Regions from separate parts of the Homo sapiens genome. Here region 1 is linked to region 2. Evidence: fine-mapped expression QTL. A gene starts in region 2. The other region holds a variant in brackets. All regions are shown on one strand. Distances are from middle to middle.

Region 1 (8,866 bases), 120 kb after region 2:
AAAATGTGCTCACGTGTGGGTGTGTATTGTGTAGTGTGTGTATGTGTGTGCTGTGGTGGGTGTTTATGTATGTGTGTGTGGTGTGTGTTTATGGGGTTTGTGTATTTCTATATGGGTGTATGGTGTGTGCACTTATGTGTGTGGTATGTGCATAGGTGTGTGTGTATGTGTATGAGTGTGGTGTGTGTGTTTATGTGTGTGGTGTGTGTGTATGTGTGTGGTGTGGTGTATGTGTGTGTGGTATGCGTGTGTGCATGTGTGTGTGGTATGCCTGTGTGCATGTGTGTGTGGTGTGGTGTGTGTGTACTGTGTGTGATGTGTGTATGCATGTGTGTGTACTGTGTGGTGTGTATGTGTGTGGTTGTGTGTATGGTGTGTATGTGGGTGGTGTGTGTGTGTGTGGTATGTGTGTATGGTATGTGATGTGTCTTGAGTGGTGTGTGTATGTGTGTGGGTGGTGTATGTGTGTGGTGTTCATGTATGTGTGTGGTATATGTGTGGAGGGTGTGTGTGTGGTGTGTATTTGTGTGTATGTGTGGTGAGTGTGGTGTGTGTGTGGTGTGTATGTGAGTGTGTGTGGTGTGTATGTGTGTGTGGTGTGTATATGTGGTGTGTGTGTATGTGTGTGGTGTGTATGTGTGTGGTGTCTGCGGGGGTGGTGTGTGTGTATGTGTACGTGTGGTGTATGTGATCTGTATGTGCATACTGTGTGTATGGTGTGTATAGGTGTGTGTGGTGTGTCTGTGGTGTATATGTGTGTAGTGTGGGGGGGTGGTGTGTATGTGTGTGGTGTGGTGTGTGTATGTGTGTGGTGTGTGGTGTGTATGTGTGTAGTATGGGGGGTGGTGTGTATGTGTGTGGTGTGGTGTGTGTGTGGTGTGTATCAGTGTGTGTGAGGGGGTGGTGTGTATGTGTGTGGTGTAGGGGGGTGGTGTGTATGTGTGTGGTGTGTGTGTGTGGTGTGTGTGTGGTGTGTATGTGTGTGCGTGAGGGCACACATGCTTCATGGGAGTCAGAGGGAAGTCCACGTGGTGAGTGAGTCCATCTGTGTTATTTTTATTCCCCTAGGTCCTGGCTCCTGTGAGGAAGCAAAGCTCCGTGTACTGCAGTTCATTAGGGAAACGGAAGAGATTGTTTCAGCTTCCAACAGTTCTCGGTTCCCTCTGGGGGAGAGTTTCCTGGTGGCCAAGGGAATCCGGCTGAGGAATGAGGACCTCGGCCTTCCTCCGCTCTTCCCGCCCCGGGAGGCTTTCGCGGAGCAGTTTCTGCGTGGGAGTGATTACGCCATTCGCCTGGCGGCTCAGTCTAGTGAGTGTGGTGCCCTTCAGCTTTCTTACTGCATCGCTTTGGAAAAGCAGGAGCTTAAATTCGTCTCTCCTCAGTCATCCTTAGGACTTTGTGGTTTGGCTTCCCCAGACTGATGGGTTCTTGGGAAGGAAAAGGCAAAGTGGTTTGGGGGCACCAGTCAAAGCTGGAATGCTGCACGCATCTCTAAAATGCTCCTTAATTCTCCAGCGAATCTACCCTAGGGCAGGTTTCAGATGGCACCTGCCGCTCCCACAAAGCCAATATTCTTGTTAAAATGCGAGGGACCCAAGCCCGTGAATGCTCAAACACCCCTTACGGCCTGCTCCAAAGCTTCCCTCCATTTCCAGGGATTCAGGAACACCACACAGCAGGAGGGGAGAGGAAGCCTCGATATTAAGTAACTATGACACATTGATCTCATCTGATCCTGAGAGTAACTCCAAAAAGCAGGAATTACTACCTGCATGCGACAGAGGCATAAGCTCAGGGAGCCTGCAGTCCTCTGGTCTATAATAACAGCTGAACAGTATGCTTTTTTTTTTTTTTTGAGACGGAGTCTTGCTCTGTCACCCAGGCTGGGGTGCAGTGGCACAATCATAGCTCACCACAGCCTCGAACTCCTGGGCTCAAGCAATCCTCCCACCTCAGCCACCTGAGTAGCTGGGACTACAGGTGTGTGCCACCACATGCAGCTAATATTTGCACATTTTTAGTAGAAACAGGATTTCACCATGTTGGCCAGGCTGGTCTCGAACCCGTGACTTCAAGTGATCTGTCTGCCTCGGCCTCCCAAAGTGCCAGGATTACAGGCATGAGTCACAGCCCTTAACCAGCTAAACAATATTCTAACTTCACCTTTGAGCAGGCACTTACTGTGCTAAGTAGATTATCAGATCTTCACATTTAATCCTCTGACAGCTCCAGGAGAATGATGGTATAATCACCATCCACAATTCTTTGCAAATGGGGAAATGGAGTCTGAGGTTAAGTCACTTGCCCGAATTCACACAAGTGATAACCAGTGGGCCTGGATGGGAAGCCCAGAGACCTGGTCCTCCAGTTCATCTCTCCTGTTCCCTGCCAGGCAGATTCCAGGTATTGCTGAGGTCAGTGCCTAGCTCTGCCTCATCCTAGAGCCCTTGTTCTTCCTCCATAACCTCACAGCTGCTCTGGCAGGAGAACAGGTCCCTTCCAAGATTTCTCACTGACCCCACATCAACTTGACAAGGACAAATGATTAATCTGTCTTTGAATCTTACTCAGGATCCCCATCCCTGTCAAATGGTCTCAGCTGATTCCCTGTCTAGCTTTCTAGGCTTGAGTCACCAAACAGCAAGACAGTCCTCCCCTGACAACATCTGCTCCAAGTCAAAGAGAATCCCTCCAGCAGGAGGGCAGCTCCCTGCCTTCCCATCCACGCCAGCAGGCACTCCAGGGTGTCTATGGCCAGCGTGGGATTGGGTCTCAGTGATCTTTGTTCTCCTAATACCACGTGACAATCTCATGTGTGCCATCTTTGTTTCCTGCTTCTCTCTCACACCAGACATCTCTTTTGGAGAACAAGGCACTGTGTCTTATTCTTTCTATATCCCTGGTGCGTGGCACAGTGCCTGACACCTACAAGGAGCTGAGTAGCTGGTGGTTAACCATCCTTATTGCTTTCTTCCTCCCTTCTTTCTCTCTCTTCCGTCCACTACCCTCACCCTATGCCTAGGCACTGCTTTTCTCTGTTCCTCAGAGACTGGGAGACTTCTGCTTTTGGGAAGAACCATGTTGTTTTACATTTTTGTACAAAGACAGGATTTGAGGTAATCAAAGAGAGAAGTGGGATTGGTGCTCCTTCAGTTGTGACCACTTTGGTCAGGGAGGGAAATGTCGAGAAAGGGGAGGCAATGTTGCTGGTGCTGTTGAGATTAGTCATTGAATGGCATGTTGGCATTTTCTTCAGAAGTCGAGCTGAGAAGTTCCTCTCCAAGTAGCCACATGCTCCGCTTTGCATGTCTGAGCTTGTAGAGGAAAGAGGAAGGGACCATAGAGGACCAGGCCTGGTCTTTTCCCTGAGAGTCTGGGGATTGAGGGCCCAGAGCGAAGTGCCTTTGGCCACTAGAACATGGTAGCCATGTCTGAGGGCCTAATGAGCGTGGCGAAGGCCATGGGAGGAAATGCACACCGCTGTGTCTGGCAAGCACTTGGTGTTTAACACCTATCAGCTCCTTTGATGTAAATATCACAGTTGTCTTGTTAGGTGAGTGTTAGACCCATTCCATAGATGAGGAAACTGAAGCTCAGAGAGGTTGGGCAACTTGCTCATGATCACAGTTAGGAGGCGCAGTGCCGGGATTCAGAAGGAGGCCTGGCAGACTCCAGAACGCTGTCCACTGTATGGGGCTGCTTCAGAGGTCGGTCCTGGTGTCCCCAGATGGGCTCTGACTGTGAGTTGGTGGCATCCTTGTATCTGCAAGCTCTCTCGTCTGGAGCCATGAAGCCTGTTTCTGAAAGGTGGGGAGTGGGGAGAACTGTCCCAATGAACTGCAGGTGACTGCCAATGGTGCTGCCACAGATATTCCCGTTCTCCCTCCAGGATCCTGGTGAGGAGCCCCAACCTGCCCCAAGTGCCAGCAGGAGTGGAGAAAGAGCTCAGGCGACAGTTCATGGCCACTTAGGAGGAGGGTGGTGGTTGTGGCAAATCAGACTGGGCCTGGTAAGACCCACACCAAACTGATGTGTGTCCCACCCGCTGCCCACCCTTGCTTCTTCCTCTCCCCCTCATGCATTCATTCACGCTTTTTTCCCAATCGGTGATTTCTTGAGTGCCTACTATGAGCCAGACACTCCTCTACATGCAAAATAAACACAAATCTCTGCACCAAAGAGCTTAAATGCTAGTGCGGAGGAGACAAATCTAACACAATAAATGGGAACACTATGTACTATGTTGGTGGTGGGGAAAGCCATGTGCAAAGCCCAGTGGGTCGGGGACTGCAAGAGCTGAGGACAGATGCAGTTTCATTAGTGGGGTGGCCAGTGGTTCATCATATAACCTCCCTCGCTGAGCCTCTGTGTCCTCACCTGGGGTAAAAGTTC[T/A]GGCTTCATGGAGCTGCTGTGAAGATCTGATATGATTTTTGTGGATATCCAAGTTTCAAAGGGGTTAAAAACTAAACTGTAGGAGTTTGGTAGGGAAACCTACGAGGGCAGCTGATGTCAATCGCCCTCCTGTGTTCCAAGGCCAACCTCTCTTCTTTCTGTCTGTGAACCCTTGGTTAAGTTGCTTAATCCATCTGTGTCTCAGTTTTCTCATCCATTAAATGGGATAACATGACATTTCTTCAGATTGCTGTGAGGATTAAATTAATTAAGGTATGTATTTAGCTAGTGCCTCACACATAACATATGAGTATAGAGCCTACCTATTATTACTATTATCTCATGTGCCTGAAGACACTTCACTGACCTACTGATTTCTGTATGGAAGTTATTGTAGAGGTCTACTATAATATTCTTTCAAGCTTCAGCCTAAGTGTTATTCTTAAAGGACAATCTGTTGAGTGCCTGCCTACTGTGCAAGGAGCCTTTGTAATACTGTGGGTTGAAATGTTTGTCAAATAAATAAATAAGAAGGCCTCCTTATGTTGGAACCAGGACATACGTGGTTGTTCTCAGCTACAGAGCCCACACAGAGCAGGTGGTCATATTCTGCTTTTCTCCTTCCCTGACTCCAGCCTTAAGCTTCTATCAGAGACGCCGCTTTTCCCCGGACGACTCGGCTGGAGCATCCGCCCTTCTGCGGTCGGGCCCCTACATGCCACAGTGTGATGCGTTTGGAAGTTGGGAGCCTGTGCAGTGCCACGCTGGGACTGGTAAGGAGGGATAGGCACCTTCAGGTGGCCAAGTGACACCCCTTTTTTATTTTAGAGGACAGAGCCCCACACTGGGAGGCAAGTGAGCTGGACTCTTAGGCTCCTCTTTAGCAGCTGGTGAAAAATTCCTTAGCTTCTCGGGCCTCCAGTTATCTCACTTGTGTAACAGGAGCAGGAAACTTCTACCAGCCTGAAAGACAAGTGGGTGGTTGCTGGGGGCATCAGAGTGATTGTGGACAATGTCCGGCTGGGGGTCTAGACTGGGGACAGAAGGCGACCAGGCTTGCACTGCTATGAGTGAAGAAGGAAAGTTGTTTATGGGACACTCCAGGGTAAGTCCCTAGTGCAATTCCTGAATGTTCTCCCCTTGGCTCTTTTCCAGGGCACTGCTGGTGTGTAGATGAGAAAGGAGGGTTCATCCCTGGCTCACTGACTGCCCGCTCTCTGCAGATTCCACAGTGTAAGTGAAGACTGCAGAGTTCTCCTCCTGACCCCCCTTGGTGGGCATCACTGGTCTAGTCAGCTGTGGTTGCCTAACCGCTGGAGACTCCATGGCCCAGCCCTTCAGCCAGGTCCCGGGTGCAGCCAGACGCATTTCCCAAGTCCCCAGGCCTGCAAGCTTGCGCTGACCTTGGCACTTCCTAGTTGGAAGGCTCCCAGCTTTGCAGGTGGAAGGAAACAGCTGAGACTGTTGAAGGAGCCCTGGTTCTCCCCCTCTGTACATCTGCTGGGCAATTTCAGCCACTCCTGTAGTTTCAGCAACCGCCTCGCCTCTGAACCTGCAGCCCCAACCCCTCTTCTGAGGCTCAGCCATGTGTAATCCACAGTCCACTTGACATCTCAAAGCTGGCATGTCCCACATGAGTCTTTGTCCTCAGAGATTCTACCTCTCTATGAAGAGCACCTGCATTCACCCAGGCTCATGACCCTTAAAGGTGGGGTCAGCCTGGGATCCCCTCTTTCTCTTGGCTCCCACGACCAGTCCTTTACAAGCACCTCTCTCTCCCACAGGCCCGACAACCTGCGAGAAATCTCGAACCAGTGGGCTGCTTTCCAGTTGGAAACAGGCTAGATCCCAAGAAAACCCATCTCCAAAAGACCTGTTCGTCCCAGCCTGCCTAGAAGTAAGGGTCTGGAAGCACAGGATTGGAGCCGGGACTTGTCCCCGCTGGTCAGAGATGATTTTTCTTTTTGTTCAATACGTTCAGCTTAGTTAAAAGCTCACATGATGTTCTCAGCCTGGGTGTTTGTCTGGGCCTGCTAGAACCTGGTTCTGTGACCTTGGGCTATTTACTTACCTTTTCTGTGTCCCAGTTTGTTTTGTTTAATCATAAGATCAGGCCACATTTTGTCCTAGCTAATGCTAGGTTTGTTTTGAGACTCCAAGAAAATATCTTTCATAAGAACTCTTTGAAAAATAAACAAAACATGCTATCATGTTTTTCCTAAAGGCATCTTGGCCAAGGCCCTATGCTTACAGTGTCCCAGGTTCTCAACACACACAGAGGACACCAGCTTCTTTCCCTCCCTAGCTCCCGGGGTGATTGTAACAATTCATAATTCAGCGAAGTACTGATGTAGAGCTCCTAGAGAACGAATTTATGCCCAGAACTTAACCACTTACTTGCCAAGTGAGGGAAATCTCTGGGCTTAGTGTCCTTTTTCTAAAATAGGATGGTAGGAACACCACCACCCACTCTGCTCAGCTTCCAAAGACTTGATGAGAAGCAGATGAAACAGCAGTGTTGAAACTCATGAAACTGTACAGTACTAAGCAAAAGTTTCCTTATTATTGTTTGGTACTGTAAACATGGACCCACTTAAGCATAGTTTCATAGAGAAATTAGTCACTATTGTTTAGTTTTTTAATCTTGGCTGGAAAGCACCTACTGTTGGAATGCAATTCTGCTTCTCCTTCCTGGGCACTGATGCTTACACAGAGAGAAGGAGAGGTAGAAGCCACAATGTCCGATGGTGGGAGAAGGGATTACAGAGTGGAGCTTAGAGGCGCTCTGAGGTGTGGTTTGCAAGGCCAGTTCCTGTGGAGGACTCTAGTACTTGTCAAAATCATTTCTGGAATTAGTGAGGCTGGTCCAGGAGCATGGCTAGGCTTTGGGTCTAGATGGGTTTGGGCCTGGACCTGACCTGCCTCTCACTCACCAGCTGTGAGTTGTTGCCCCACTTTCCCTCTCTGAGAGATCTTCAGTTTCACCCACCCAAAAGCGGGAGAACTGTGGTCCATGCCTCATGAGGCTGTTGTAGCCGTCAATCAAATGATGCACGTAAAGGGCTGGGAACAGGAGAGCACCTCTCCCCACCTCCACATCTCTCCGTCTGGAGAAGCCATCACCTGTTGTTTTGGAAGGGACACTTTTGACATCTGCCAGCAGCAGGTTGGCCACTAGAGCATCTTGCCCACAGTGACTGACATGACCCCGGCTTTGTCTCAGACAGGAGAGTATGCCAGGCTGCAGGCATCGGGGGCTGGCACCTGGTGTGTGGACCCTGCATCAGGAGAAGAGTTGCGGCCTGGCTCGAGCAGCAGTGCCCAGTGTGAGTAGCAGCCCCTCCTGGCATGGCTTCTCACCTCTTCTGTGGGGCACTGAGCGTGGAGTCCAAAGAGCTGGCTTCGTGTCCCAGCTCTACTGCTTCCATAGCTGTGGGGGCACAGCTGCTGACCTCACTATGCCTCAGTTTTCTCATCTATGAAATCGGGGCAATATTCCCCCATCTCTGCAGTTTCTTGGGAGAAGCAAACGTGGGAGGGAGTAGGCTGTGCTTTGTGTCTGAGAAGTGCAAACCAGCATTGATCCCCATCAAAGGGGGCCCTAGGGCTTTGGAGGGCTGGCCGGATGTGTGGCCCTGCCGTCTGGTTTCCGCAGTGAAGCCCAGGTGATGTCCCCAAAGGGCAATGTGCAGATGTCCCTCTTCTGCCTAAACACCATAAATGCTCCCATCATCTTCGGGGCCGTGCTTGAGCTCCCTGGAATGGCTCGAGGGCCCTTTGCATCTGGTGCTGGTGTGTCTTCTTCGACTTCTCTTTCTTCTCCATCAGTTGTGCTTCAGGGTGCAGTTGTGATAAATTCTGGTCAGACTTTGGAAAAAGGAAGACGCTTTCTTCCACCTGTGCCTTCACGCGTTCTGGCTGTGCCACCTGCAATATGTCCGTCTATCCCCTCCCCACCTGACAAATTCTTGCTCAGACCACACATCTGTCCCTCCAGGAAGCCTCTGCTGGCCTCTCTCTTCCTCTGTAGGCTCCTACACTGCACTATTGTTGCCTTTATTTCACAGAACTGTACCTGCTCACGTACTTGTTAACTCTCCTTTAAGACTCTAAGCTGCTTGAGGGCAGGCAGTGGAGGGGAGAGAGTACAGAGCTGAGCCAGGTCCAGTGTTTGCCTTGTTGTCATTCAACCTCCTGGTGGGGAGGCAGCCCCAGACCCCTGGAAGGCCCTGCAGGCAGGTGGGCTGAGGGTGGCCGTGGGTGGTGAGGAGGGTGATTGGGCATCTGAGCAGGGAGTGGGCACTGATTCCCCAGCCCATCTGGCTTGTCTCTGTGTCAGGCCCAAGCCTCTGCAATGTGCTCAAGAGTGGAGTCCTCTCCAGGAGAGTCAGCCCAGGCTATGTCCCAGCCTGCAGGGCAGAGGATGGGGGCTTTTCCCCAGTGCAATGTGACCAGGCCCAGGGCAGCTGCTGGT
Region 2 (8,866 bases):
TATAATTTTTCACTGAATCAAACTCACACAGAAGGCAGACTTATTCCTTATCTTCTATTAACTCCCCAAACTGAAAAATTCCCTTTTTGCTTAAGCCTGTTTTCATAAAATTTTCTGTTACATGCGACAAAAAGAATCCTCACACACTGCGGGTCTGAATATTTCATGTACGTATGAATTGTTTAGGGTAGCTTGCTAAAATGCAGATTTCCAGTCCCCAAACCTAAGATATAAATCAGGGCCCAGGAACTTGAATTTTATCAAACAGTGTTGCATTTTAACAGACCATCTTGTTAAAACAGTGCCCCTGAGCCATATGCACATCTCCATAATGCAGATAATTGGCAGACCAAAGCTTGAGAAATACTGATATAGTTAATGCAAGAGACACTAGTTAACAATGATAAAAATCAGGAGAGGTGCAAAGTATCACATAGCAGCAGGAAGCAGAGACCATCCTTTGTCCTAAATCAGAAATGTGAAAATCCTTTGCAGTATCACGAGTGGATTCCATATTCAATGTACTTCTATTTATAAAATCTTTACTAATTTCTCATGATTATTTCTTCCTGCTTTATGTGTCATGACCAGATATCTCCGTTTGTCTGGAACTGTCCAGGATCCACCTGTCATTCTGGTATAATTATTAATAGCCCTTCCTTCCATTCTCAAAAGTGTTCAGGGTTGGATGATAAATTTTCTGTTCACTCTCTTGCTTCATGGTAATCTGCACACACACAAAAGAGTTCTTTGTCTCTCTTGCTGCATTTGCTGAAATAGACATACATATTTTTTCTATTTTATGACCCTTAGTAGCAGAGACTTTGATATCTTAGAATCATTATTGCCAAGCCTAAAAGTTTTAAAAATCTCAGAGATCCATGTGGCTCTGAGTAACATGTAAACTGAGTAACACATAAACTTACATATATACATATATATCAAAGTAATATATATTACTTCAATATTATGTACTTTGTATTTATAATATATATGTATTATTATTTACTTTAATAACATCATATTTCTTTATTTTATTTGTATATATAAGTATGTTTAAAGTAATCTGGAACACCCTATCATCCTTAGAGTTGGCTCATTCTAAGAAAGTGGAATATAAACCTACGAATCACAGTGAGGAATACATTAGAGAGGTGAAAAAAATGCTGCGGGAACACTGGGAGAGATGACATCTCTGCCAATTCATACATGGCCTAGAGCTCCTATTGCCAGGGATTAATTCTGGAATAACTATAATTTCTGTTCAGTTGATAAAGGGATATGGTGACAGAGGAAAGATAAGTGAGCTCTTTGGCAGGTGAGGAAAATGATGTCAGTGCTATTTTCAAAGATTTTTATGCACATGGAATGAAGAGATTTGACAGAGGCTATCACAGTAGTTTACGTTTCTGCTAAACTAACCTTAAAAAAAACTTGAACTGCTTTGATTTTCTTTACTAATGCTAATTGTAAATATTAAGTAAACACACAAAAAATAGCTATCTTGTGTTTTATTTGTAATCAAGGAGTATCTGGTATTTAGTAGTAACTTTTTTTCCTACCTTAAAATAGGTATACATTTGTTAAATATTCCAGGAGACATTATGGTTCCATATTCATATTTTTAATGTTGGAGGAATTTAGTTCAGTGATTTCTGCCTAACAACTGTTGTTTCAAGATAATTTGCTCACTGCTTGTTTGGTTCTGCTCAAACACAGCTGTAAGTTCTTTCTTTCTATATTTGGAGATGGAGTGACTGATGGCTGGGCATCAACCATCTGGAACAGGGTGTGCTGGGTGGAAGAGAGGAGAAGGGACAGATCAATGCACGGCTTCACTACATGGCCAGGGAGTCAGTACTAGAATTTTGTATATCCTGTATCCCTACTCTGATCCTGACCTTTGACTCTATGTGGTTAAAAGAGGAAATGACATCCTACCTGAATTTTTTGTCAGTTTTATCAGGCTTAGTGCCTTCCTTTTAGAGTCAATATTATATTCACACCCTCTCCACTTCCCAAAATTAACTTCATAAATAACATAACCAAGCTATACATATATACTTAAAAATCAATATGACTATGATAATATAAAAAATTTATGAAAATAATTCATAAAAATCATATATATTTCAATACTTAACATTCATCCATGTATCACAGAAATATATAATGAAGTAGTGAGGTGCTTGTATCTAAATTTAGATTTCCCTAAATGTAACAGCTACGCAACTAGACTGACACAGGTGCATTCTATCAGTGCCTCAAATACTATGAGTAATTAGCCGTTGGTGGCATGATATTTTAAAATGAGATAGACTCTTGATAATGTTCAGAAAAAAGGTCAGTGTTTCCTTACATTACACAGTTGCTTCATTCCTGTAAAATTTAATGTATATTAAAACCTTCCAAAAATACTTATATGTGAAATGCAGTTCTAGGCAGGGACAATTATAAACAGGTTTTTCACCTACATGAATGTCTGGAAGGACATCTAGAAGTCATGCATGACCTGGGGCAATTCTTCAAGGTATGGAACTGCACTGTGCATTTCAGGATATCTAGCAGCCCTGGTCCCTTCCCACTAAATAGTAGCAGTGCCCTACCCCAATCCTGAGACAATAAAATACCATCCTCCATTTCCAAAGTGCCCTCTAGGGGACGGTATTAACTCCACAGAGGATTACTAAGCCTATACAATTCACTGAAGCTAGGGATCATTTACATAAGACCTTATTTTATTTTTTTCTTTCAAGTGTCATTATTGGAAGACCCATTGTCAAGTTCCAATTAAAATGGAACAATCATCTTTCCAGGGTGGATTCTCAACAAATAGTTGGGAGAATGGACAGAATCTGTTGTTCTTTATGTATGTATTTTATTTAAATTGCAAATAACCTCAAGTTTTTAGTGGTGTATAATAATAGATATTTATTTTTTCTCAGTCACTAGCTTGTGATTCAGCAGGGGTTCTGCCAGAGTTCAGAAAGATTTAACTCCAGGCTGACCATCAGAAACTTGAATACTGGTACTGCCACAGATGTGGGAGAAAAGTTTCCTTATTTTGAACATCATTAGCAACTTCTGATACAAAGTCCTTGGTAAAAGAGTTTTACTTGAGGCTAGAACTTTAGCTGCAAGGGAGACTGGAAACATGAGTTTCTGATATTTTCATCTTATTTAGTGGGAGGTTGATTCTGCATCCAAGATTCATAAGGTGGATGTATCATTTAGTTTGGGTAGGATTATGCCATGTAACAAACAATCCAGCACCCAAATCTCCATAGTTAAAATAATAAATATTTATTTTTTTCCTTATACAACACAGTAGTTGTAGATTATCAGTGAGGCCTTGGTTCATCATAATCTGTCTAGAACCTGGATGGTAGAGCAGCTATCATCTCAAGCAGTGCTTTACACTGTGCCAGAGACAGAAACTTTGGTGAGCTGGCATTAAAAATTACCAACTGGCCATGACAAATCTCACTTCTAATTACATTTTATCAGCCAAAGCAAATCAAATAGCCATACATAATTCTAAGGAGGGTGGAAAGTATAATCCTGTCATGTCCTAAGGAAGATGCTACAAGTATTTGGTGTTCTGAACTAATGCAACCATGATGAGAAATTTCTCAAACATGGAAAGAGAGTTGAGATGCTGGGCAACCAAAAAACAAGATAACAAATATCCACTAGAGACTGTCTTATTTATATCTTTTCTATAACAAATATCCACTAGAGACTGTCTTATTTATATCTTTTCTATGTATCACCATGCTCAGTCTAGCTCAGTAGCTATTAGTGACTTAGTAGATGCTGAATGAATGTTTGTTGAATAAAAAAAGAATGATTGTTTAATTTACCAAATCTTACTATAACTGAAGCTTAAAGAGAGTTACTTTGCTATTTTAACTCCACACTATGAAGCAAGATAAATATAAGTGACATTTGTATGCAACGTTGCACTTGAAAACCAGAGTGGTACAGTGGAAACCAAGAGAAAAAAGATGTTTCATTTCAATATTATTTTCAATGTGTTCACTTATTGGTTTCTCCCCACAGCAAGGATACTGTCTCCTGTGCTTAGTAAAGTTTGGGAGGGTAGGTATTCGATAAAAGCAGTTCTGCTATCATTAGCTGTGTAGTCTTGGGGAAGTGATATCAATGTAGCCATAGGTTAAGGTTATTCAGCTGTGCCTGAGCACGCGCGTACACACATCTTAGTAATATTCGTCTTTGTATTGTAAAGATCTCCAAGACTGGAAAGCAATACAATTGTAATACAGTTGTACAGTTGTGATTGTCATGTGACATATTTACAGCCTAGTGTCTATCACAAAGCATCCATTCAAGGGAGGTTTATTGATTTTGTAGTAGTAACCATGCTCTATTCTTGATGTGGAGTGGGATGGATATCTAAGAAAGCATGTAATGCATTTGAAAAAGTTTGCCAAGGGTCCTGGGTAAAGGGGTTTTGGTGACGTGGTTCCCAACGAATCAAGAATAATAAACAATGCCCTTCGTCCTCAAATCTCAAAGGTCAAATACTTCACAACTACCAATAGGCACCAAGAGCTCGCGTTCTTTCCTCCAGTAACCAGAGCCCCGCCCGCTAGCGGTCCGTCAACGACCGCAAAGCCCCGCCTCCTACGGCGGCCCGCCAATCGGCTGCGCGGCCCGGGCCCAACCCTCGTGAGTCACGTGACAAGGCCAGGCCCGCTTCCGGCACGTCGCGGGCGGCTGACGTCGCCGGGGCCCGGCGTCGCGTCAGGGCTGGCCGGCGGCGGAGGCGGCGGCGGCGGCGGCGATGGCAGCGGACCCTGAGCGAGCTTGAGGGCTCGGACCCAGCTCCCTCCCGCGAAACCTTGGGCGGATCCGGCGCTGCGGCCCCAGCTCGCTCCGCTCCTGCTCCCTCCCCGGCCGCTGCCTGGGCGGAGGCAGAGGCAGAGGCCCGGGCTGGCCGCCCTGCTCGTGCCCCAGCTCGGCCCCGGACGGCCCGGCTGCTGTGCAGAGAGGAGGCCGAGTCGGTAAGAGGCGGCGGCGGCTGAGCCGGCAGGCCGCCTGGCCCCCGCCGGGCCGCCCGGGACGCCCCCATTCTGGTGTCTCTCTTTCCGGCCCGCTCCCCTCCCGCCTCCCTCCCCGTAACTCGCCGGCCCTATTGTCTGGGCGCCGCAGCTCCCTCTTCCCCTCCCTTCCTTACCCCCCTGCGGAGGGCCGGATGGCTGTCAAACCTGGAGGCTTCTCCAGCTCCCTGCCAGCCCTGTCAGCCTTTCCTGCCTGTCTCGTGCCACCCCCTCTCTGTCTGGCCTCACCTCCTCACCTTTTTTGGCCTGGCGGTCATTCTCTGACCATTGCTTTACATTGTCGGTCTCTATGTCTTCTTGCTCATTTCTTCTTCCCTCTAACTTGTCATCTCCGAAAACTTCCACTGTCCTATTTCTTGCCATTCTTTGCTCCTTTCCTTACTGTTTTTACTCCTCTCCGTGCTTTCTGCCTTGTTTTTGCTTCAAGTTTTACTCCCAGTAGACTGTCTTACTTTATGAAAGTTCCTTAATTCAAATCCCTCTTCATCCTTCCCTCTTCGAACCTAAGACAAAGGAAAATCTTGTTTTTTTTCTGGTACTTCATCCCTAAGTGTCACTGGGGGATTATACTCATTCAATCCATCACTTAATTATGGGCTCTAAGTTTGATTCTAGATGTTAGTGTACCTTGTGAACTATCCCTTACTGAATTCTTCCTGTGACAGACAGCAGAAAAGGTTGATTCGATTTCTACACAAACATTTAAGTAACTGCCTTACGTGTTGCGCACTGACAAGACCTCTATTAAAAATATTCATACATTTGTTCTTTTGCACCAGCTACACCCTGGGCAAGCTCCCTGTTAACTTTTTAATGCTCTAATATTTGCTTATACCATAGCAGGAGGATACCCACTCTCCCCCTCCAACCATGGGTATTTGAGTTCGCATATTTTCATGGCCAGTATTGATGCTATTTTTTCCCTTACCTATCAGACTCTTTCAAAGAGAAAAGAGGGAGCAGTTGGAATTTTATGTTTGTTGTTCTATTTTGTCTATTATGAATTGTGACAAAACCATTATAAAAGATGACAAGTGTGTGTGTTTCTTTTTTTCTTTTTAAACTGTAGGGAACATAGTCATTAGTGATCTCAAATACCGAAAGACATTTTACGGATCTCTCCTCGCCCCTGATAACAATCAATTTACATTCTTAATTATGAGTTATGTTTTGATTAGGTTATCTCAAAATGTATTCATATTCCTCACATACCCATTAGTGAAAAAGAGGCCACCTCAAGTGTGCTCGGTGGCCACTGTGGCCCAAAATATAGTACTTTGCATGTGAATGACCTAGGGATACATAGGTACTCCTTTGCAGTTTTTGTTCTAGCATTACAACCACTTTTATTATCAATGTGGACACTGTCTAAATTGAAATATAGTAGAAATACTCAGTTAACAAAAGCATGTTATTATTGCTTGTTGAATGTAAAGTATAAGAAAGCAGTCTCTTTTGTAATACTGTATGTTAAATTAAAATTATTGAATTATGTGCTACCAAGGTGGGAGATCATGGGTAATGAAAAATCCTAATCCCAAGAGGAATTAGTGGTATCTTCACTGGCAGAGGAGTGTGCCTACTGTTTCCTCCATCTTTGTGTGCTGTAGGGCCTTATCTAGTGTTTTGTATTATGAGGCACTCAACAAATATTTGTTGAAATTAAAAATTGATTTTGTTCTCAAGAATTTCAGTAGTCCTATTCCAGAACACTCAGCTGTCTTAATTTTTCAAAGGCAGGAAAGCATTTTCAGCTCTCCCCGTGGAGAATTTTCTTGGGTATCTGGAAGCTCAAATGTAAAGCATTTTTAGCTATTAACAATTTTTAACAGTCCATTTACTCATTCTTTTTAGATAGTTTTCTTTGTTCTTTTTCTTAAATCATTATCAAGATTGCCTGCAGATTGCACAGAACTTTATATAGAGATGTTGGTAATACTCCTTCAAATTTCTTAACAATTTGGCAAGTATTTCATATTCTCATGTATTGTTTTAGAAATTCTGTTTAATTTTAATTTGACCTGTTCCCTTATACTCTACTTCCTATGCATTTTCTGCATTGGAATCTAACTTTTTTCTTTCTCTTGAGGTAGTGAAAAGAGAATACTGAAGAATAGGATCTCAAGATGAGTAAAAAGCCCCCAAATCGCCCTGGAATCACTTTTGAGATTGGTGCTCGTTTGGAGGCACTGGACTACTTACAAAAATGGTATGGAAAATATAGAACTTTCACCTAAATATCACAATATCTGTAGCCTTACATATGTTAATTAAAACAGTAAATTCCACTGATGGTAGCAGAAACATCAGTGTATTCACATTTCGATTACACATATATGTTGTTTTTTAGTTTTCCTACTCTTTAGGCTTTTTAGGTTTAGCATTTAAAAACTATTTTTAGTCAACTGACTAAATTATTTAGAACAATCATTTTTGGTGTTTGAGAAATGAAAATAATTGTCTAGAGTATGCGGTTTATGTATACCTCATGTATACCTCACATGAGCTGTATTGGTGGAAGTAGAGAGAGGAGTAATCCAGAGAACCAACTTCTCATGTTTTGGATAAATTTTGATTTAAATTGGTATTTTTGGTCTGTCAGTGGTAGTCTTTCAAACTACAGAGTATATTAATGGTTAGCATAGCATTTTTTCATAGTGAACACTTTCAAAAACATCTCCACTATTCATTATCTCACCTAAAACCAAAATCACACTTAACCTCCTATTTTCCCTGGTGGGCCTTAACCTAAAGGCAGGTTGTTACTGTCTCCAGTGCAAAATAGGCTGTCCTTTCAGAACTTGTGTGTCTCCCCCTATTCTGGCCATTGTGGTAAGTGGTAAATTTAAACACCTCCCAACATAGCCTTTATACAGTGGTTAGGAAAAGTTGATGAATTGGTATAAAACTACTATCTGGAAAGGAGAGAAGGGGAAGCTACATGCAGGGGTCCCTGGGCCAGAGTAGGAATGAGGAGGATTCTCCTTTCTCCTAAGGAGCGTATTCCTCATTTGGGTTAACTGGCCCCTCATTCTGCTGTCTTGGCAGATGTCTTTTGTTGCCATTTGCAGGCTCCTAACCTGAGAGGGGCATTAGAGGGGTTCCGCTTCTGGGAGGGATGCTGCCTTTGCTCCTCCTGAAGCCCGTTTATTTTGATGCGAGTTCTTGTTTAGCAGCTCTTGGACTTTCCCAGACTTTTTGACATTTTCTCTGATTTAAAACCATACTGGGCATTTTGTAGATTTACTTTTGATTGATTTGTATTAAGTCAACTTCCCGAGTTGGCAATGGCAGGCAGAGAAATCTTGTTTAGTCATAATATTTGACTGTATAGACCAGGCTGGGGTTTCTCTCTTTTAACATCTGGCGTTAGAGCTTGGCACATATCTCTGACCCCAGCTTAATGACCTCTTGTTTTGAGCTCCACTTTAGGACAGTTTGAAGCTACAATTTGAGATGGGGAGGTTAATCGATACTGTCACTAGGTGAAGAATGTACATGGTAATTCTTAGGAGGGGTTTGGGAAGTACCTGGGAACTAGGCAGTAGCATCTCTCCTAGTGACGATCAAAATGTCTCCAGACATTGCCAAATGACAACTGGAATGAGGGTGGGTGGCGGTAAAAATGATTGAGAAACTCAGCATTAGACCATGCAACAGAAAATGCCAGTTGAGGCAGCACTTGTCTATCTTGGTTCTCATTTGACCAAGAGAAGCTTTTTACTCCAAAGGCATACTACTGAATGTCTGTGTGATACAAGGGTATAAGAAATAATACTTGT

What was found.
Region 1: its variant is fine-mapped to the expression of PHF20L1 in blood mononuclear cells (TOPMed, PIP 0.97).

The regions. Positions count from the first base shown.
Region 1 is chr8:132,892,622-132,901,487 of GRCh38, forward strand. TG (thyroglobulin) reads left to right here. Exons shown (of 48, transcript NM_003235.5): 11 at 1,069-1,308; 12 at 5,028-5,165; 13 at 5,548-5,625; 14 at 6,177-6,289; 15 at 7,616-7,718; 16 at 8,732-8,866. Among named protein-coding and RNA genes, the nearest start is that of TG, 30 kb to the left of the region's middle. The variant T/A (reference allele first, on the strand shown) is at 4,393.
Region 2 is chr8:132,770,619-132,779,484 of GRCh38, forward strand. PHF20L1 (PHD finger protein 20 like 1) reads left to right here and starts at 4,770. Exons shown (of 21, transcript NM_016018.5): 1 at 4,770-5,027; 2 at 7,174-7,293. The coding sequence starts at 7,211. It also overlaps a transcript of TMEM71 not described here. RefSeq lists an enhancer at 4,499-5,000 and a silencer at 4,755-5,204.